2 separate regions of the Homo sapiens genome follow, and region 1 is linked to region 2. A link means that fine-mapping ties the variant in region 2 to the expression of a gene that starts in the linked region. Tissue or cell type: vagina. Region 2 holds a variant in brackets; the other region holds the start of a gene. All regions are shown on one strand. Distances are from middle to middle.

Region 1 (8,087 bases), 950 kb before region 2:
CAGATCACCTGAGGTCAGGAGTTCGAGGCCAGCCTGACCAACATGGAGAAACCCCATCTCTACTATACAAAATTACCTGGGCATGGTGGTGCATGCCTGTAATCCCAGCTACTAGGGAGGCTGAGGCAGGAGAATCACTTGAACCCGGGAGGCAGAGGTTGCGGTGAGCCAAGATTACACCGTTGCACTCCAGCCTGGGCAACAAGAGTGAAACTCCGTCTTAGAAAATAATAATAATAATATTGTTATGAACATTTGTGTACAAGTTTTTGTGTGAACATCTGTTTTAAATTCTCTTGGAATTGCTGGGTCAAATGGAAACTCCATGTTTAACTTTCTAAGGAACTGCCACAATCACAGCTTTTATTTCTTACAAAATCCAAAGTGAAAAATTATATATACTAGACAGTCAGAAGCCTGGGCAAATCGGTTACTCATCAGATACCAAGATGCAGCAATGATTTTGGGAGTTTTTAATCGCAAAAAAGGTTGTGTCAGAGAAATTGCTTTGAGGTGGAGAGAAAATAAAGGTACTGTCTTTCTTTTTAAAATGAAAATGAATTTAAATCTGGTTCATCTCTAAGTTTTTGTTTGAGTGGCCAGCTCTTGTACAGCCAGTGGTCTCAGAATGTTCAGGCAAAGTTCCTCCCCAGAAAATTTGCACAGTAGAGGAAACTACAATATTTCTTAGCTGTTCTGTAGAGTCACATTGGTGGGGAACAGAGGGTCTCTGCAAACCTAGGATGTAACTAAGAGGGGAGCATGTGCTTAAGGTTGGAATAGGTCTGCCTCCACTCTTTCCAGGACTTAAATCGTGTCAGAAAACATGAAGAGAAAGAAAATCCCCAAAGGCAATTTGAGTGGATGGGAGAGAATCTCATGAAATGGAAGGAGCCGAATAGGTTGCTGGGCCCTGAAAAGGCATAAGGCTTGAGTGACCCATAAAAGCTATAGGTTTTCCCAAACACTGCATGTTCTCACTCATAAGTGGGAGTTGAACAGTGAGAACACATGGACACAGGGAGGGGAACATCACACACCGAGGCATGTTGTGGGGGGTGAGGCAAGGGGAGGGAGAGCATTAGGACAAATACCTAACGCATGCAGGCTTAAAACCTAGATGACGGGTTGATGGGTACAGCAAACCACCATGGCACATGTATACCTATGTAACAAACCTGTACATTTTGCACATGTATCCCAGAACTTAAAGTAAATTAAAAAAAAAGTTGAACATGGAAAAAATAATTCATAAAAAAAGCTATGGGTTTTCTCCCTAGAAAAACCCATACATCACAACATTATTCCAGCACTTTCATAAGGTCCTCATATCACCCCTGAAGCCTATCTGTGGCCCCCTGTGAGTCTACATGAGTAGAGAGAGAATTGAAATCCACAGTTTACCTGCAAACTTCATTTTAGGCTGTAGTTGTAAACCGTCCCCAAAATACCCAAATACCCCCATAAAAACAATATAGAAAGCCCACGTGGTGGTGGTTTTTTTTGTTTTGTTTTGTTTTTTTGTTTGTTTTTTGTTTGTTTTTTGAGATGGAGTCTTGCTCTGTCGCCCAGGCTAGAGTGCAGTGGCCTGATCTCGACTCACTGCAAGCTCCGCCTCCCAGGTTCACGCCATTCTCCTGCCTTAGCTTCCCGAGTAGCTGGGACTTCAGGCGCCCGACACCATGCCCGGCTAATTTTTTGTATTTTCAGTAGAGACGGGATTTCACCGTGTTGGCCAGGATGGTGTCGATCTTCTGACCTTGTGATCCGCCCGCCTCGGCCTCCCAAAGTGCTGGAGTTACAGGCGTGAGCCACCGTGCCCGGCTGCCCACGTGTTTTTATATCAGATTAATTTACTCGGAGAAGAATGGCCTGGTTTTCATTTGCCTTCTATTTGGGCACCGTTATTGTTAATTTCAGTAACCAAAATGAAGGGAATAAAAAGGAAAGTAAGAGGTAAAAGCTTGTATTCCCAAACCAGAGAATCTACACTGAAATCAAAAGTCTAATGCTTTATTTTTTTGGCTAAACTTTGGTCCATTCTAAGTTGACCATACCTTCCCTGGTGAACAGAAAGAGAAGAAAAGAAAATAAAGAAATTTTAATTTTTAAGAAAGGTTTAAGGTTTTTGTTTTTGTTTTTGTTTTTTTTTTTTTTTTTGAAGGACTACACTTTAACAGATTTTCAATCTGTTGGATCAGCTTTTTTAGAATGTTATGCATTGCCACGCTATGCTTTTTGGGAAGAAGTCTCTTGAGTTTTTAAAGTAATCATAGTTCATCTTACCTTTTTCAAATAATCTGATCTATTTTTTGTGACAACTGCTATGTTGGGGGACCTAGTGAAGCCCAAGGTTTTCATGAATTACACCTCAATTCAGCCATCAGGATTAATATGTTTAAATTCCAGTTGGACAGCCCACTGTTAGCTGATACCTAATAGAAAATACCTGACTTCTAAGTCCCCCATCATGTCTCCCCTGTTTCAACAGCACTACCCTTATCTCTCAGCCAATCAGGCCATAAAGGGTTAAGATCACTAGTTTCCTTTTGAATATTAACATTTCACAATATTGTGTACATGTGTGCATGCCACTTACAGCACTGAACCCTATTGATCCTTACCTCTATGATCTTCCCTAATCTTCATTGCATCATGTCAATGACTAATCATGAGAGATCAGGCAGTCTGACTTCTAGGTCTGCATTTGGGACCTCTATGCTTTTCTGCCTCCATAATTATTTTGTTTATGCAATAAAATAAAATAATAAAATAGGAAAAGCAGGTTAAAATGCTGGCTCTGCAACACCAGCCTGAAAGGAATTGCGTCCGCCTCTCTGATGGAAAACAGCTTAGCAATTCGAATATATCACCCCAACAACCATCATCAAAAGAGAACCCTGGGACCTGCCATAAAGCAAATGCTTGGTGTGAATCAATGGATGGCTGAGTAAATAGCCAAAAGTGAACTGCAAGCAGCAGGAATGGATTTGAGAAAAATCAACAATTCAGCATGGCCCTCAGATACGGTGTGGGCCTTCCAAGGCCTGCGCGTGCTTGCTGCAGGGAAAGAGAGTAAACCAGAAGCCTAGTTTTGAAGGGGAACAGGTTACCTACTGGCACCAGCCTCTGTTGATTACACACCGCAAGAGCCTGGAGAGGAAGCAGGTGAATCCAGTTTTCTCTGTCTCTAAACACCTCAGTTTACCTAGCTCTATTGTGGGGGTCTTGCAATTTCAAGTTCCTTCTGTGATGATCCAAGAAATAATAGGTCTAGCAAGTGCTTTATGTAAACCAAAAAGTGCCGGCACAAGGTTGAGGAGGCAGCACTGACCAGGTGTGTCCAGGGTAAACTCTCTAGAGGAGCGTTTCATAAATTGAACGTGCATTGGGATCTCCTGGGAATTTTGATGAAATGAACATCCCGCTTCATGGGTCTGGAGTGGGGCCTCAGCGATGCTAACAAGCTTCCAGGTGATGCTGATGCTGCCGGTCCGCGGACCACACTCCGGAGTAGCAAGGGGCCAGAAGGGCCAAATCTGCCTGCGTGGAGGGAAGTCGGGGAGATGGGGAGAATGGAAAGAAGGACGGTAGAAGGGAAGCTGCTAGGAAGGAGAGATCGGTGCGGGGAGGAGGGGGGTTCCAAGAAGAAGGGGGAGGCTGCGGTGCTGGAGCGAGGATGCGCAGACCGAGGCAGGGAGGCGGGGGTGCGGGAGGCTCCGCGGCTGCGCGGGCGCGTGCTGGTGGCCTCGGCGGAGGCTCAGTCCCGGCCCGCGCCCGCGGCGCCCCCGCTGCGGCCCGAGCGGCCTGGCTGCGGGATCTGTGCGCACGGATGGCGCGGCCGCCCCGGCAGCACCCGGGGGTCTGGGCGTCGCTGCTCCTGCTGCTACTGACGGGGCCCGCCGCCTGCGCAGCCAGCCCCGCGGACGACGGTGCGGGCCCGGGGGGCCGGGGACCCCGGGGACGCGCGCGGGGGGACACGGGCGCCGACGAGGCGGTGCCGCGCCACGACTCCTCCTACGGCACCTTCGCGGGGGAGTTCTACGACCTGCGCTACCTGTCGGAGGAGGGTGAGGCTGCGGGAGGGCGAGGGGTTGCGGGAGGGGAGACCGGGGGTGGGGGACCGAGGATCGGGGGAACGAGGAGAGGGGGCGAGGGAGGGGGAGGGGGTCGGAAAAGATGTCCGTGGAGGCAGCTCTTGCAGAGGCGAGGCCAGGATGGGGAGCGCAGTGCCCAGGCCTCCGCCGGCCTGGAGGAAAGGCCCAAAGAGCTGTCAATGCCTGCCGCCCGCTTTACAGATGGGGAGAGTGAGGCTGGGAGAGGGAGGGGTCATCCAAGTTCTGCAAGGCTGTGGATAGGGGTGGGTGCTGAGTCTAAGCTCCCCCAGTTCTTAGATCTGGCTTCCACCTTTGCCGCCTGGGGTTGGGTTATAGGGGAGGAGGCCGCCATCTGGCCAGGGCAGCTAGGGGGAAGCAGAAAAACCCCAACCTAAAGAGAGAGGTTGCCTTATTTCCTCCCTGTCTGTATTGACTTAAATTTGCAGTGACCAGCGCCCACCTCGTAGCATTCTGTTCCTGCTCACTGACCCGTCAGAGCTGGGTCACATCAGCCTCCCCACTCCCATCCCTCCTCTTTTATGACGCCACATATGTTATGGTCCCCTAGTGCGAGCCACCATTGTTGTGGCCTGCTGGGCCCGCAGACTGGGAGTTTGTCAGCCAAGGGCCTCCCTGTAGAGCTGCTTCAACGAGCACAAAAGCCAAGCGGATGGTGGTCAGAAGGAATGGAAACTGGCCTCTTTAAGCAACTTTGGGAAGTAGTGACTTTCCTTTTCTTCTGCTAAGAGGGATATCCAACCATCAAGCTGGGGTTTGAAGTGTTGAGTCCCAGGAGCTCATATCTGTTAGTGGATGTGTCTGTTGTTAGGATTAAGTTCAGCTGTATACAACAAGCAAACATTAATAGCTTCAACAAGATAGAAGTTTCTCTCTTACAGAAAGAAAACTAGAAATAGGTAATCCAGAACTGGTCTGGAGGCTCCTTGGTCACCAGTGTCTCTGGATCCTGCCCTTCTGTTTCTTCACAATTCTTAGCATGTAACTTCATGGTTCAAAATAACTGCTTGAGCTACAGCCATTATGTTCACATTCTAGACAGTGGGAAAAATGAAGCAGGAAGAAGGTCACTGACTACTTTATAAAGGGATTACTCGGAAGTTTCATATAACAATTTTTATACTTCTTTGGCCACAACTTAATCATATGGTTGCACATAGGTACAAAGGAGGATGTAAAATAGAGCCTATTAGCTGAGACATAATATGCCCAGTTCAAAAATCAGAATTATTGTATTAAAGAAGATGGAGAGAATGGATTTGGGGAAATGTATTAAGTAGAGGCTTAACTGCTGAATTAGAGATTTTAACATATAGTGGTTTAAATAAGCTAGTTTATTTTTCTCTCTGATAAGAGTCTGGTTGGTCTGGGGCTGGTGGGATGACTCTGTTCCGCAAGGTCATTCAGGGACCCGGGTTCTTTCCATCTTGTTGCTCTGCCATCCCCCTGAGGCTTTGTCCTCATCAGTACAGTAGAAGCCAGGTTGCATGTCCTTGTTCAAGATTGAGGGAAAGAAAAAGAGAAGTTCAGGGCAAGTAGTTACCTTTTAGGCTGGCTGCCCACATTACTGCTGTTCACATTCCTTTGGCAAAAACATAGTTACAATGACCTAGCTTCAAGGGAGACTAAGAAATGTAGTCTTCTAGCTGGAGAGCCATGTGGCGGAATCTGTCACTCTGGAAAAGAATAAATATTCCGAAGCCCGTCTGTTTCTGAAAGCATCTAATGTATCTTTACACTGTACACAGCCTAGTGCTGCCAGGTGACTTAAATGTGGTATGTGAGAACTTGTATTCTGATTGGGCTCATGCATCTAACAAATGAAGGATAAGCTCAGATTCTGTACGTCCTTTGAGTCTCTCTGCAGAGAGAATGATATGTTCATTGTATAGTCCAGAAAGTTTTATGAATGTGGACATCAGGTGGGCCACAGCCATCAAGGACAGCTTTTATAGAGTCAAGCCATGAAGTAGGAAAGACTTCAGTGACACAGAAGAGGGAAGGCATTTAGGTGAGGTGATCACATAGCAGGCAGCAGGGCTTTGTACCGATCCCTAGTGTGTCTGCTTCGCGCCCCCACCATTCTGCACATAAAACTGGTTTAACCCTCCTGAAGTCTGCCTCTAACCTGTTGGCATTGCACTCAAAAGTCTGTGATGGGGCCGGGCGTGGTGCTTCACGACTGTAATCCCAGCACTTTGGGAGGCTGAGGTGGGTGGATCAGGAGGTCAGGAGTTCGAGACTAGCCTGGCCAACATGGTGAAACCCCGTCTCTACTAAAAATACAAAATTAGCCGGGCGTGGTGGTGCACGCCTGTAATCCCAGCTACTCAGGAGGCTGAGGCAGGAGAATTGCTTGAACCCAGGAGGTGGGGAGGTTGCAGTGAGCTGAGATTGCATCATTGCACTCCATCCTGGACAACAGAGTGAGACTCGGTCTCAAAAAAAAAAAAAAAAAATCAACCTGCTCCCTGAATGAATATTCAACTGCTTTATCTGAAATGTCCTCCCTGGCTCAACTTCCTTTTACAACCATATCTCCCCTTCCCTCACCCTGAGCTTTTACTCTCCATTCTTCTCCTACCCTCTTCTCTCTGACAGTTTCATTTCCTCTTTGCATACAGATTCTACCACCATCCGGTGGGTGCTAGTTGAGATGTAAGTGGCGTGGGGCTATCAGAGGCAGTGCCTCTGCTAGATTACCCTGGGCCTAGGCTTCATCCCTGTGGGTCCTGAATAGAGACTTTCCCAAGACGCTTAGAAATAAACAGTGACATTGCCTTAAAAGCGGGGGCTGAGGAGGGGTTGCCAGAGAGAGGGAAGAAGAACCAGGAGAGAGGGGTGTCCCAGAAGGCAAAGGAAAAGAGCCTGTTTCCTACCAAGGTGTGGCCTGATAGCATGAAGGCTCAAAATTATCGATGGTTTCAGGAGATGAGAGGTTATGGGTGGAACTCTCCTAGGACAGATTCAGTGGAGAAGGAAGGAGGGAACCTGACTGACCTTGGAGGACGTGGCAAGTGAAGAAGTGCCGGTAATGCCTTTGACTTATTCTATCAATACACTTGAGGTTGTCCATTTCTAGTGACTAGGCTACTTGTTCCCTCTGTGCAGGGTACCCCCTTCTTATGTCTCAAATAGTCATGAAACTGAGTTCAAAAATCAGAAAAAAAGGAATTTGAATAGTGGAGGTGGGAATGGAAATCCACTGAAACTGAGAGAGAGCCTACTGACCATTACCTACCCTACCCAGAGACTATTTCCCCAGTATCCAGATTGCCCAAAACCCTCAAATCCAGAGGCAGGATGCTGGCTAATTTGCTGTCTCAAGAAAATGATCACCCCCTAACATGGTCATTTTTAAAAACTTAAGTTATGCTAGTGTTCAGAATTCTTTGAGGGTCCCACTGTCTAAGCCTATACTACTCATGCTTACAGTCTCAGCTCAAATGTCACCTCTTTCAGGAAGCCTTCCCTGATTTTCTCCTTCTCCCACAGAAGATATTCTTCCACAGCACACAGTCTGCCGTGACCCTCTTTGCTGTCTATGGTCAGGAGTTCAGATAGGATCTTAGTGCTTGAATCCTACCACTCATACTTCTTTCCCTTGAGGTTCTTAACCCAGAGTCTATATATTCAGAGCAATGATAGAATGTGAAACAGATTACCATTTGATTATGGGCAAATGCTCACTTCTGAGGGTTCTTTGGGGAAAAACAAACAAAACTGAGTTGGATGTTGGCTAAGGGTTAAGTCCCAAATGAAGCTTGCTTCTCCCTGCTGCTAAGATGGCCAGGTTTGGGAAGCAGACCCTCAGTCTTAATCCAGCCAGCTACATGGATGATGTTAACCGCCTGACCCTTGGAGCCATACCCTGCCTAAGAAGGAAAAGACAGAACATCATTTATGGTCACTTATCTTTAAGGCATAGTCATCTGACTACTCGTAAAATGTGGCTCAATCAAGGATTTTCTG
Region 2 (8,108 bases):
TGACATGAACACACGTAAGATGTAAGATGCCAAGTGATGTTGCCTCCAACCCAGGAGACAATGCAGTGATTGTAGGTAGCAGGGTGACATGGTCAGGCTTGCCTTTTAGGACTATCACTATGGCTGCCATGTGGCGAATGGGTTGGTGCAGGCAAGGCAAGAGGAAGGAAGATCTTTTAGGAACATTCTGCAATATGGCAGGTAAAAGATGTTGTGAGTGTGAAGCTGGGCAGTGACAGTAGACAGGGTGGGGATGGGTTTGACTCATGAAAATGCAGAAGGCAAGGTCGATATGACTTGCATTAGGGAGAAGGGAAGCATAAAAAGTTTCCCAAGTTTCTGGCTCATGTTCCCTGAGTGGATGATGGTGCCACTCTCGAGGAGATAGAATCAGATTTAGTGAAGACAAAGATAAGTGACAGTGGTTTAGTACATGATGGGACACAATGGGACAAGTGTCCATTGTGCCCTTGCACGTGAGGTGCTGGGGAGTTGAGCACATTGGGAAGGTGATTTGGAATTCGTAAGCATATATGAGTTTATTCAAGCCATCACTTCAGACAAGTGTGTAGCGAGAGAAGAATTGAGTTCTTAGACCCTTGGGTGCAACAGCATTTATAGGGTTGTCAGAACAGGTGAACTCACAGTAGAGACTTGAACTCTGAATAAAGCAGGGCGCCTAACAGCATGAGGTCCCCTTGGTAGCCTGCAGCTTCTCCTCCTTCTTTGAAATACAAATCAACTTCTTTTGGGGGATGAAGAACTAGAATTATTGTAAACCTATCAGTTTTCCAAGCGTCAATTTTTCCAATTGTTGGGACTTCTATTAGGTCTAACAATGGAGGACATAAAATATTTACTGAAAAGTTAAAACTGCTTTTGAGGGAGTGGAAATTTTCAGTATGTTTTTAGCAAAACCCACAAGATTGAAGTTCAGTTCAAATAACACAAACATTTTGCATGCAATAGCTGTTTATTTTATTTTTTATCAATTTGGCTCCATATTTCTATGGTAGTAACTTTCACAAAGTTCTGGCCCTTAATTGTGACAGTACATCCAATGTTAAATAGAAAATGGAGTAGAGAGACGTCCTAGTCTGTGTTGCTATGAAGGAGTATCTGAGGCTGGGTAATGTATAAATAAATGAGGTTTATTTGGCACATGGTTCTGTAGGATCTGCAAGAAGCATGGCCCCAACATCTGCTTCTGGTGAGGGCTTCAGGCTTCTTCCACTTATGGTGGAAGGGGAAGGGGAGCCAGCATGTGCACAGGTGGCATGGCAGGAGAGGAAGCAAGAGAGAGAGGAAGAGGTACCAAGAACTTTTCAACAATCAGTTCTTTCAGGAACTAAGAGTGAGAACTCACTCCAGTGAGAACAGCACCAAGCCATTCAAGAGGGACCAATCCCATGACCCAAACACCTTCAACCATATCCCACCTCCAACATTAGGGATCGAATTTCTACATGAGACACGGTGGGGCCAAACCAAATCCAAACCATGCAGGGGAAAAGGAGATTTCTATTTCTTTCTCCATTAACCACTCAAATGTTTGGTTTATGCAATGCTGCCTTCTAGCTAGACTTCATTTGCCGTTAGCAAATTTAACAAAGGCTGAATACATAACCTGCTATCTCCCTGGAGCTATGCTAGGCGCTGTGATGGGCAGTGTTTCCTTTAAGATTCACAAATGGGCCAGAGAGAGATTAGAATGCTTTTGTCTATTTGATAAAGAAATTGAAGTTGTAGGAGATGAAGTGATTTGTTCAGGTTTACTCAGCGAGTTAGAGGAAGGCAAGGATTAGAACACGTGTGCACACACATACACATACATTTTAGATTCTAAGTCTTGTGAGCTTTTTTTCTTTTAATACAACTGCTCTGTTTCCATTTCTAAAATATGGTTCACATCTTGCTGGGTTTTTAAAAACTGAGTAAGTCTTTTCTCTGTTTGTAACTCCTTAGCACCCCAATTCCATTAAACAAATGCACAAAAAAGAGAAATCAGTGAAACGATGACCTTCATAAAATAATCATTCCTAAATCATCTGTGCAAATTGTTCTCGTCTACACAATTATGCCTTATGAGAGACCATTTTGATTACCAGTCAAAGGGAAATAAATGAGTGGTATGTAAAATTTAGTATCCATGATTTTTCTCATCAGTGTCCTTTAAATACATCCACATTATATCTGAGGTTTAAAAACAAGGCAAATGGGCACAGCATGCTTCGGTAGGACTGTCCTTTGTGGCTGTAGAAATGAGCCTTAGCTAACTTAGGCCTGAGTGGTTCCAGTACCTAAGTAGATCCCTATACTTAACTCAGCAAAGCATACATAGTTGTTATTCAATTGTTATTTACTTTTTTGGTCTCCTTTTATTTCATTTCCTAGGAAACTGAGTGGACGTTGAATCTGTGAATGGGAAGGGAATTCTTGTATTTTCTAACCAGATTTGCCAGGACCTAAGAGCAGATAATGGGGCGGGGGAAGAAAGGAAAATTGCCCCCCATGTATCCAATACGCCAATAAATTCTATACACCAAAACTTTGAATGAACAAAGTAATTTTTAGAAAATCAAATAGGGATTGTCTAGGGAGAATAAAAAGACATAGTGTTAGTCCAGTGTATTTATTGGCATGGCACATGTTGATTGATTACCTACTGTAAGCTAGGCCCTCTGCCAGACCTTGGAGGCATGAAAATAAACAAGACAGATGTGATTACTCTTGCTAGTTGAGAAGATCACCATGAGTGCCTACTAAGTGCCACATGTTTTCTATCAAGTTTTCTATTCATAGTAGTCATAGCTATTAGCAGTGGCTCAGATGTTTGATGCTTGATCCCTCAGAAGCATCTCTGAGTAGGCAATCAAGCACTTAATTTAAATGGAGGCTTTCTCTTTTTAATTTTTTTTTGTAGAGCATAGCTACTGATAGAGAAACTATGCGATAAGATCTGATACATAGCCAGACGCCATGGCTCACGCCTGTAATCCCAGCACTTTGAGAGGCCGAGGTGGGAGGATTACTTGAGGTTAGGAGTTTGAGACCAACTGTCCTACTAAAAATACAAAAAAAAAAAAAATTACCTGGGCATGGTGGTGCATGCCTGTAGTCCCAGCTACTCATGAGGCTGAGGCAGGAAAATCACTTGAACTTGGGAGGTGGAGATTGCAGTGAGCCGAGATTGAGCCACTGCACTCCAGCATGGGTGACAGAACAAGACTCTGTCTCAAAAGAAAAAGAAGAAAAAAGATCTGATATATAGGTAAGGGAAAAGAGATTGAGATGGGGAACCAAAGTATAAATACTTGGACTTAGCTGATGCATTTAAGAAGTAAAGAGGAGCTGCAAAATATGATGAGGGTTACAGGCCTCAATCCAGAAATGCTTCTTGACTCACCTGCAGCAGGTCCCTGAAATGCCATCCTTATTAGTAAAACTAATACTGTCTAGAAAATTATTGCAATAATGGCTAGAATCTATTGAGTATCTTTTATATGTAGGTCCTGTCCGAAGTGTTGTACAAACATGATGTCATATTATTAACCTTCAGAGCATCCCAGTGAGGTGGGCATGTTTATCGCTCTACCAGTGAGAATAAAATCAGTGATGTCGAATGCCTGGACCATGGTCATGTAGCTACTGTGCCTTCCAAATTTTTGCTTCCCAGGACACCGTCTTTCAAAACTCACCATTGTATATAGCCGACATTATTAAGACATTCTCCTGTGGCAACCTTTTCCTGTTTTCTCATCTTTCCTGTTTCAACCAGCAGGCCAGCCAAAGGCATTATCTCTTCTTATGAAATGAGATATATCGCCTCATTTAAGCTGGTCTGTATCAGTGTGCTGTGGGCATCATTCCTATTTTATTAATGTAGGTAAGAGGTTTCAGAGTTCTAGTAATTCGCCCAAGGTCATATGGCTTGTAAAGAATTAATTTAGGGCAAGAAAATGAGATTGTGCTTTGAAGATGGAAAGTTGGCTAGAAACCTCATCTCTGTGTCTTACCACCTGTATTAGTTATCTATTGCTGTGTAACAAATTAGTCAATAACTTAGCAGCTTAAAAGAACACACATGTATTATCTCACACTTTCTGTGGGTCAGAAATATGGGAAGAGTTTAGCTGGGTCCCCTGGCCTCTCACAACGCTGGAACCCAGGTATCATGGCCATCTCAAGGCTCAATGGAGGTGAGATCTGCTTCCAAGAGCACTCAGTAGTTGTTGGCAGGATTTAGTTCCTTACGGGCTGTTGGCCAGAGGCCACCCTCGGTTCCTTGCCACATGGGTCTCTTGATAAGACAGCTCATAACCTGGCAGCTGGCTCCAACAGAGTGAGCAAGCAAGTGAGAGAGGAAGAGAGAGAACAAGCGAGATGGAAGTCATAGTCTTTTATAACCTAATCTTGGAAATTACATCCCATCACTTTTGCTGTATTCTATTTACTAGCTAAAAGTCACTAGGACCAGTCCACAAAAAAGGGCAGCAAATTACATAAAGGTATGAATACCAAGAAGCAGAAGTCATTGAGGGTCATTTCAGAAGCTGCCTACCATCCTGTCTGAGCTGGTTGAATTTACTTAGCCTCATTTTTAAATTTAAATTTAAACTTTTTAA[C/T]TTAACTGTTAAGTTTAGGGGTACATGTGCAGGTTTGTAATATAGGTAAACTTGTGTCATAGGTGTTTCTTGTACAGATTATTTCATCACCCAGATACTAAGCCTAGTACCCAACAGTTATTTTTTCTGATCCTCTCCTTCCTCCCACCAATAGGCCTCAGTGTCTGTTTTTCCCCTCTATGTGTCCATGTGTTCTCACCATTTAGCTCCCACTTATAAATAAGAATATACCGTATTTGGTTTTCTGTTCCTGCATTAGTTTGCTAAGGATAATGGCCTCCAGCTCCACCCATGTTCCTGCAAAGGACATGATCTCATTCTTTTTTTACGACTGCATAGTATTCTGTCGTATGTAGGCACCATATTTTCTTTATCCAGTTTATTATTTATGGGCATTTAGGCTGATTCCATGTCTTTGCTATGTAGTAGTACTGCAGTGAACATACACGTGTATGTGTCTTTATAACAGAATGATTTATATTCCTTTGAGTACATACCTAGTAATGAGATTGCTGGGTCAAATGGTATTTTTGTTTTTAGGTCTTTGAAGAATCCTCACACTGATTGAACACATAGTTCCACAATGACTGAACTAATTTACACTCCCACCAACAGGGTAAAAGCATCCCTTTTACTCCACAACCTCGCCAGCATCTGTTATTTTTTTGACTTTTTAATAATAGTCATTCTGACTGGTGTGAGATAGTACCTTGTTGTGGTTTTGATTCGCATTTCTCTAATGATCAGTGATGTTGAACTCTTTTTCATATGATTGTAGGCCACATGTATGTTTTCTTTTGAAAGTGTCTGTTCATGTCCTTTGCCCACTTTTTAATAGAATTGTTTGTTTTTTTTTCCTTGTACATTTGTTTAAGTTCCTTATAGATGCTGGATATTAGACCTTTGTCAGATGCCTACTTTGCAAAAATTTTCTCCCATTCTGTAGGTTGTCTGTCCACTCTCTTGATAGTTTCCTTTTGCTGTGTAGAAGCTCTTTACTCTAATTAGATCCCATTTGTCAGTTTTTGCTTTTGTTGCAATTGTACTTAACCTCTTTTAACCTTGGTTTCCCCATACTTAAAGTCAGAATAATATACCCATTGCACTATTATTGTGGAAATTAAACAACTTGGACTATAGAAAGCCCCTGGTCCCTAATTTTTGCTTGTTAAATTATTACTACAATTGCTATCATTTTATTGATATCCTAAGTAGGAGAGCCAGAATCGGAACCCAGATAATGTGTGTGATTTTAATCCGTGCTGTCTCCTCCTACACGGTGTTGCCTTTGGCCTGAAATAATATATTCTGAGATGGGCTCTCATTTTCTAAGATAATTTGCTTAAAATAGTCTAAGAAGAGTCATCTATCCTTGTGTCATGTGCAAAGGGAGAGGCAAGGCGATTTTTTTTGCTTTAACAACTATAAATTTGAAGAAGCCCTCATATGAAAGGTTTTCTTTGTGCAAGTGTTTAGCTCATCTTATAAGACATTTTAATGTTAATAGGGCTCCCACAGGGACAATATAATTGATACAATACTCTTCCAAAGCTGTTCTAAACGTTGCAGTCACCGGAGTACGGTAATATATCTTCCCAATGTCAGAAAGCGCAGAGTGGTTACTGAACTCCAACTTGGTTGACTCTCAGATGGCTTCTTTGAAGATGAATCTTAATGGGGAGGCTGACGTTGGAGCCATGGGAGCAAATCTGATGAATGTGCTGGAAGTGCCGCAGTGGCCTTTAAAATGCCTGAATGTCACTGGGGGAAATAAAAATGCTAAGGAGAATTAATGTGATAAGCAAGTGCTGTCGGTGAGCCATCTCAGAATCATGGGCTTGGGGTTTTAGCAAAACCACATAGTGTGGTGAAAAGACCATGGGCTTCAGAGTCAGCCAGAAAAAGCTGAATTTGAGTCCAAGTTCTGCCTCTTTCTAACTGGGTGGGACCTTGAGATAATAATTTAACTTCTCTAAAACTTTCAGCTACTTGCTCTATAATGCCAGGTAATAATAGCTGTATCACAAGGTTTCATGAGTGTCAGGGATCACACCAAAGGCGCTTTATACATTTTAGTTCTCATCTTCCTCTTAGAGCCTGCTTTTTAATTCAGTAGTGGCAAATATTTAACAACTGCCTCTCCAAAGGGTAACAACCCCCTCCTCCAAAGGGGACCCCTGATCTATAGCCTTTGCCTATTTCCGTGGTGTAAAAATTTCACCATGCTGATTTTGAGCTACCAACTGGAAGCCAGGGAATACTGTTAAAGTCTCTGTTCAACTTTCTCTCTCCCTTTCCCGCAGATTTATGTCTTTTTATTTATTTATATATTTATTTAGAGATGGGATCTTGCTATGTTGTCCAGGCTGGTCTCAAACTCCTGGCCTCAAGCAATCCTCTTGCTTCAGCTTGCTAAAGTGTTGGGATTACAGGCATGAGCCACCATGCCCAGCCCTGATTTATGGCTTTCGTCGGAGCCATTACCCATTTTTGTAAAATAAAATAATGTGTGTTCCCTGCCTCCCGCCCTCCAGCCACTGAGTGGGCCACACCACCTTAAGGATAAGTCTTGGTAGCAGGTGGCACCTTTGTCCAGAGAAAAAGGCAACTCTTTTTCCCTTCCTCTGAAAGCATGTGGCCCTAAGTTAGAGCATATGGCTTGGCAAGAGGAACACGGGCTGGTTTTCAGTGCCCTCTCACTGTCTTGGCTGAGTACCCTTGTGGAGGACACAACCTTTCAACTCTATCTGGTGGCCTTGCCTTTTGTGGTTAACCTTTCCAATGTACAATGCCCTCTCTGCCTTTGACAAAGTAACTGCTCATTAACAGGCTACACCTCCCAAGATAAGCAAATAAGCTCTCTTTCCCCATTTTCATTGCTTCCCTGAACAAGGAAGAAGGTAAATCTGTCATCTCTCAGTATTTGGTTTAAGGCAGAAATATGTATTCAGACGTGGAAGTGTTGTAGGAGTTGTAAGGTTGGAGGGAAGAAATCAGAAGGTGTGTGAAATTTTCCTGATTAAAAGAGTTATTTGGGAGTTGGCTGTTGGCCTAATCATTGAGATTCCTTCTAGTTCATGGACAATGCTTATATCTGAACCATATGGGACAGATTACAAACCACTTTCAGAAATGTTATCTCATTTGGAACACACCTTGTGAGGTCAGTAGTGGTAATTATCAGATTTAATAGATGAGGAAATTGAGGCTCAGATAAGTTAATGTCATAGAATATTAAAACTGGGCCTCAAACCAGGGTGTCCTAGATATAGGTTCCTGGCTTTTTTGATGCATTATTTTTGTTCTGTTATTAACTCATCCCCCTAGGCTCTTTCTCCTGACTGGGCTTTCTCATTAGAACCACAAAATAAAGAAAATAATTTGAGGCCAGGCACGGTGGCTTGTAATCTGAGCACATTGGGAGGTCGAGGCGGCCTGAATACTTGAGGCCAGGAGTTCGAGACCAGCCTGGGCAACGTGGCA

What was found. PIP is the estimated chance that this variant, and not a neighbour inherited with it, causes the effect.
Region 1: it holds the start of FRRS1L, and the variant in region 2 is fine-mapped to the expression of FRRS1L in vagina (GTEx, PIP 0.96).

Annotation. Positions count from the first base shown.
Region 1 is chr9:109,162,884-109,170,970 of GRCh38, reverse strand. It overlaps FRRS1L (ferric chelate reductase 1 like), which reads left to right and starts at 3,722. Exons shown (of 5, transcript NM_014334.4): 1 at 3,722-4,070. The coding sequence starts at 3,833.
Region 2 is chr9:108,216,021-108,224,128 of GRCh38, reverse strand. All of the region lies in intron 4 of LOC105376214 (a long non-coding RNA gene), which reads left to right. Among named protein-coding and RNA genes, the nearest start is that of ACTL7B, 640 kb to the left of the region's middle. The variant C/T (reference allele first, on the strand shown) is at 4,626.